Regions from separate parts of the Homo sapiens genome. Here region 2 is linked to region 1. Evidence: fine-mapped expression QTL. A gene starts in region 1. The other region holds a variant in brackets. All regions are shown on one strand. Distances are between the middles of the regions. Region 1 holds the start of NANS (N-acetylneuraminate synthase). Region 2 overlaps NANS (N-acetylneuraminate synthase).

Region 1 (3,020 bases):
GTTCACCATGCCCACTACCTACACAGCTGATTTATCAAAATAGGGGAATTGCAATAGAGAGAGTAATTCATGCAGAGCCAGCTGTGCAGTCTGGCTGAGTTTTATTATTACTCACATCAATTTCCCCTAGCATTCAGGGATCAGAGGTTTTTGGGGTTTTTGTTTGTTTGTTTTTGAAATGGAGTTTCGCTCTTGTTGCCCAGGCTGGAGTGCAATGGCACAATCTCAGCTCACTGCAACCTCCGCCTCCCAGGTTTAAGCGATTCTCCTACCTCAGCCTCCCAAGTAGTTGGGATTACAGGCATGCACCACCATACCTGGCTCATTTTGTATTTTTAGTAGAGACAGGGTTTCACCATGTTGGCAAGGCTGGTCTCGAACTCCTGACCTCAGGTGATCCACCCGCCTCAGCCTCCCAAAGTGCTAGGATTACAGGTGTGAGCCACTATGCCCCACCTTGGAGATCAGAGTTTTTAAGGATAATGTGGTGGGTTAAGAGAGGCCAGTATGCCAGGAGTGCTGATTGGTTGTGTTGGAGATAAAATCATAGAAAGTCAAGGCTGTCTTCTTGTGCCAAGTCAGTTCCTGGTTGGGGGACACAAGATCAGATGAACCAGTTTATCAATCTGGTGGTGCCAGCTGATCCATCAAGTGCAGGGTCTGCAAAATATCTCAAGCACTGGTCTTAGGTTTTACAATAGTGATGTTATCCCCAGGAGCAATTTGGGGAGGGTCAGAATCTTGTAGCCTCCAGGTGCATGACTCCTACGTGTCTAATCTTGTGGCTAATTTGTTAGTCCTACAAAGGCAGTCTAGTTCCCAGGAAAGAAGGAGGTTTATTTTGGGAAATAACTTATCTTATTTTTTAAATTAATTAATTAATTTATTTATTTTTGAGACAGAGTCTTGCAGTGTCACCAGGCTGGAGTGCAGTGGTGTGATCTGGGCTCACTGCAACCTCCACCTCCCGGGTTCAAGCGATTCTCCTGCCTCAGCCTCTCGAGTAGCTGGGATTACAGGCACGCACCACCACGCCCGGCTAATTTTTTTGTATTTTTAGTAGAGACGGGGTTTCTCCATATTGGTCAGGCTGGTCTCGAACTCCTGACCTCAGGTGATCTGCCTGCCTTGGCCTCCCAAAGTGCTGGGATTACAGGTGTGAGCCACCGCGCCCGCCCAGGTGATTGTATTTTAAGAGCCTGGGGCTGGGAGGTCCGGGTACTAGTCCCATCTCTGCTTTGGCTTTCTGGATGGCTTTGGACAAGCCAGTGCAACTTCTCGAACCTGTTGCCTCTCATATAATAGGAACCTCCGCCACTTCTTGAAAACTTACTACAAGCCAAGTATTGTGATCAGGGGTTTCTATACGTCATCTCACAGTTCTATTTTATTTTTTTGCTTCAGAGAGAAACAAAAATAACGCTCCGGAAGACTGAGTAACGTATATATGAGCAGGAGCTGGTGACTGGCATAGGCTGGACTCGATCCAGCTCTGTGATTCTAACTCTAGCAACCCTGTTTTTTCCATTACACCATAGGGCGCGCTCTCCCCATGCTCCTGAGAGCAGGACATAGACTATGCCCTGCGCAGGCAGCCGTCCGCCTCCTGCAGGGAATGCTTGCTCCTGGGTGCACGCACGGATACCGCGATGGTCCGAGACCACGCTCTGGGACAGCAAGCCTCAAGCCTCGCACAGGAGAGGGCCGCGGAGCTTCCTCGACCCGCCCCGCCGCCCTTCCCGCGGGAGGCCCCGCCCCCGCCCCCCGCCCCGATTGGCTGTCGGGAGAGAGGCGGGGCCTAGGGGATTGGCTGCCCGGCGACCGCGGGCTGACGTGGCGGGGCTGGCGTGTGGGTCTCGCAGCGTTGCTCACAGAACAGAGTAGAGGCGGCGGCGGCGGCGGCCGGACCCAGACTGGTAGTGAGGCTTTGGACCCCGAGCCGCTGCAATGCCGCTGGAGCTGGAGCTGTGTCCCGGGCGCTGGGTGGGCGGGCAACACCCGTGCTTCATCATTGCCGAGATCGGCCAGAACCACCAGGGCGACCTGGACGTAGCCAAGCGCATGATCCGCATGGCCAAGGTGAGGCGGCAGCTCCCGGGACCCGGGATTCGGGCGCCGGGAGGGGCGGGGCGGGGCCGCGGGGAGCCAGGGCCACACGGCCTCCGCGGCTGGGTACCCTGGTCCGGCCTCTTCCCGCCCGCCAGTTCCGTTTTCGGAATCCTTCGGATCCCTCTTCCTCACCGTGTCCGCCACCCTCGTGACCTTTCTGCATTACAGCAGCTGCCTCCTAACCCGACCTGTTTCCTCCCCGTTCTGGTGCCAGAATAATCTTTCTAAAAGTCAGACTTGATCAGACCATCCCCCCTGCCTGGCACCTTCTGTGGCTCCCTCCTGCCCGCGGGTAGAGTCGAAACCCTTTAACATAGCCTTCAAGATTTTAATGACTGGGCCCCTTCCAGCCCGTCATAATTCTTCTCTGACATTCTTCAGCGACACAGAGTTACTTTCAGGAATGACAGTTCCTGGAAGTTGCTGTGGTCTCTCTCACCCGCCATTCCCTGTATATGAAATATGAAGTGGTTAAAAGCCGGGCCTTTGAGTTCAAATCTCAGTTCCACCACTACTAGCTGTGTGAACATGGGCTGCTTACTTAGCCTCCGTGAACCCTTTTCCCCATTTGAAAACGGGGCTTGAAAACAACAGTTCTTTCCACATGGAGTTGTTATGGGGATCAAATGAGATTCTCAGATAGAGCTCTGAGCCCAGCACTTGGCACACATGAGTCGGTAAATGCGTGCTCCCTCTTCTGTTGGGACTGCCATATTCTTCATTACGACCCCAGCCCCCAGCATAAGGCCTGGCCTGCACTATGATTCTTTGGTTTAGAGATAGCTCACCCCATCTTTCCTTTCCCTTCATCAATGCTACTCAACTGATTTTGTATCATTTGTGATAGGTTTTTTAAATGTTTATTTATTTATTTATCTATGTTAGAGACAGGGTCTTGCTCTGTCACCCAG
Region 2 (2,500 bases), 21 kb after region 1:
TTATATTTTTAGTAGAGACGGGGTTTCACCATGTTGGTCAGGCTAGTCTCAAACTCCTGACCTCAGGTGATCTGCCCGCCTCGGCCTCCCAAAGTGCAGGCATGAGCCACCACGCCCAGCCCTTTTCCAGATTCCTGTAGCCAGCAAAGACCAGCACCAAACGTTTGTTGGGCTAATGGATGGGTGGATGCAAATGAATGTTTGCATTTGAATGAAATGACTGAGAACAAATCTTTGCCTGCTTTCAAGTTGCTGAGCGTCCCTCTACTGCCTAAGATGAGGGGTTTTTCTACTTGTATGTTATTCCTTGCCTGTCATAACAACAGTGTTTTTGGACAATGGTGAAAAGGAGCTCCCTCTTTGATTTTTGTAGATGGCAGTTGAATTCCTGCATGAACTGAATGTTCCATTTTTCAAAGTTGGATCTGGAGACACTAATAATTTTCCTTATCTGGAAAAGACAGCCAAAAAAGGTAAGTGTCTAATTTTTGACTTAAAATCGAAGGGAGTCCAAACCTTCATATTTTTACTCCCCTCATGGTGGCCCACTTTCAGCAGATTTCATGAAGACAAATTTTAGCCTCTTTTCATTTTTTTAAATAGAGATAGGGTCTCGCTGTGTTGGCCAGGTTGGTCTTGAACTCCTGGCCTAAAGCAATCCTCCCATCTCGACCTCCCAAAGTGCTAGGATTACAGGCATGAGCCACTGTGCCCTGCCAGAAACCTCTTTTCAATCAGCCTGTACTTCCATTTTTTGTAAGCTAATTTGAAAGAAAATGAATTAAGAATATGACAGTTTTTATAAGACATTTAGAAATTCTTTTTAAGAATTTTTTTTTTTTTTTAATAGAGACAAGGTCTGTCTATGTTGCCCAGGTTGGTCTTGAACTCCTGGATTCAAGTGATCCTCCTACTTCAGCCTCCCAAAGTGTTGGGATTACAGGTGTGAGCCACTGCACCTGTCCTAGAAAATTTTTTAACTAAAATTTATAAGAAATTAAGGATATGACAGTATATATAAAACCTAGCTGGGTATGGTGGTGCATTACTGTGGCCCCAGCTACTCGGGAGGCTGAGGTAGGAGGATTGCTTGAGTTTGAGACCGCAGTGGGACATGATCGTGTAAAGTGGTTTTACAACATGAACAATTTCATTTGATCCTCATAACACTCCTAGGACTGAAACAGGTCATGATTATGATGCTTGATACTTATTTCACAGGGGAGGCCTCTGAGACTCAGAGACGGACAGTACTCTGCCCAGGCACAGCTAGAAGTGGCAGCTCCACACCTCACATTCATTCACACTCTTGAATCAGCACTCATTCTACTGTACTGCCATGGTATACAACCTATTAATCAGATAAGATACTCATTTTCCTCTTGGCAGTGTGAAATTCCTCTGCCTCTTTAATTCAGTTCCTTTTGCTCAAGAACACTGTCGGGGGGCAGAGGGGAGCCCACCTTTCCTGTGGCCGAGGGCAGGAACCCAACAAGCTCCTCTCTGTTCCCCCACAGGGGCTGGCACAGTGTTTTAAGAGATGTCTGTGGAGTTCAG[T/C]TGAATGATGAGACCAGCAGTTGGGATGTGTTGGGGAGAGTCAGAACCTCTAAAGAGAAAGTGCTGATGGTGTTGGTGCTGGATTACTCAGGTCGCCCAATGGTGATCTCCAGTGGGATGCAGTCAATGGACACCATGAAGCAAGTTTATCAGATCGTGAAGCCCCTCAACCCCAACTTCTGCTTCTTGCAGTGTACCAGCGCATACCCGCTCCAGCCTGAGGACGTCAACCTGCGGGTCATCTCGGTGAGCAGGAGGGAGGGGGTTCCCTTCTTGGGCCATTTACTATGGGGAAGGCGTAGTCTTTTTTATAACCAAAATTCTAACAAACATGGCATACTTTATAATTTGAACATCCTTTGACAGTCTTGCTGTTACCAAATCAAATTCGAGCTAAGCAGTTGAGGAAGCACATACATTCTAAAGAGGGTGACTGTAAATGAAATTTTCTTGGCCAGGCGCGGTGGGTCATGCCTGTAATCCCAGCACTTTGGGAGGTCGAGGTGGGCAGATCACCTGAGGTCAGGAGTTCGAGACTAGCCTGGCCAACATGGTGAAACCCCTTCTTATTAAAAATATAAAAATTAGTCAGGCATGGTGATGCGTGCCTGTGGTCCCAGCTACTCAGGAGGCTGAGGCAGGAGAATCGCTTGAATTCAGGAGGCAGAGGTTGCAGTGAGCCGAGATTGCACCACTGCACTCAAGCCTGGGTGACAGAGTGAGACTCTCAGGGGGAAAAAAAAAAAAAAAAAAGTCTGTCTGTCAACAGACATTTGGGATGATTTTACCTTTTGGCTATTGTGAATGATGCTGCTATGAACACTAGCGTACAGATAAATATTCATCTTTTTTCATACTGAGTTATAGGAGGCCTTCTTGAAACTTCCTGGCTTTTTCTGCTTTATTTGCTGACTCTCTTATTTTCTAATGCTGAGCATCCCTG

Evidence for each region.
Region 2: its variant is fine-mapped to the expression of NANS in whole blood (TOPMed, PIP above 0.99).

The regions. Positions count from the first base shown.
Region 1 is chr9:98,054,862-98,057,881 of GRCh38, forward strand. NANS (N-acetylneuraminate synthase) reads left to right here and starts at 1,871. Exons shown (of 6, transcript NM_018946.4): 1 at 1,871-2,079. The coding sequence starts at 1,948. It also overlaps a transcript of TRIM14 not described here. RefSeq lists enhancers at 1,380-1,429, 2,470-2,589 and silencers at 1,620-1,969, 2,050-2,219.
Region 2 is chr9:98,076,545-98,079,044 of GRCh38, forward strand. It overlaps NANS (N-acetylneuraminate synthase), which reads left to right. Exons shown (of 6, transcript NM_018946.4): 3 at 374-473; 4 at 1,649-1,803. It also overlaps a transcript of TRIM14 not described here. Among named protein-coding and RNA genes, the nearest start is that of NANS, 21 kb to the left of the region's middle. The variant T/C (reference allele first, on the strand shown) is at 1,558.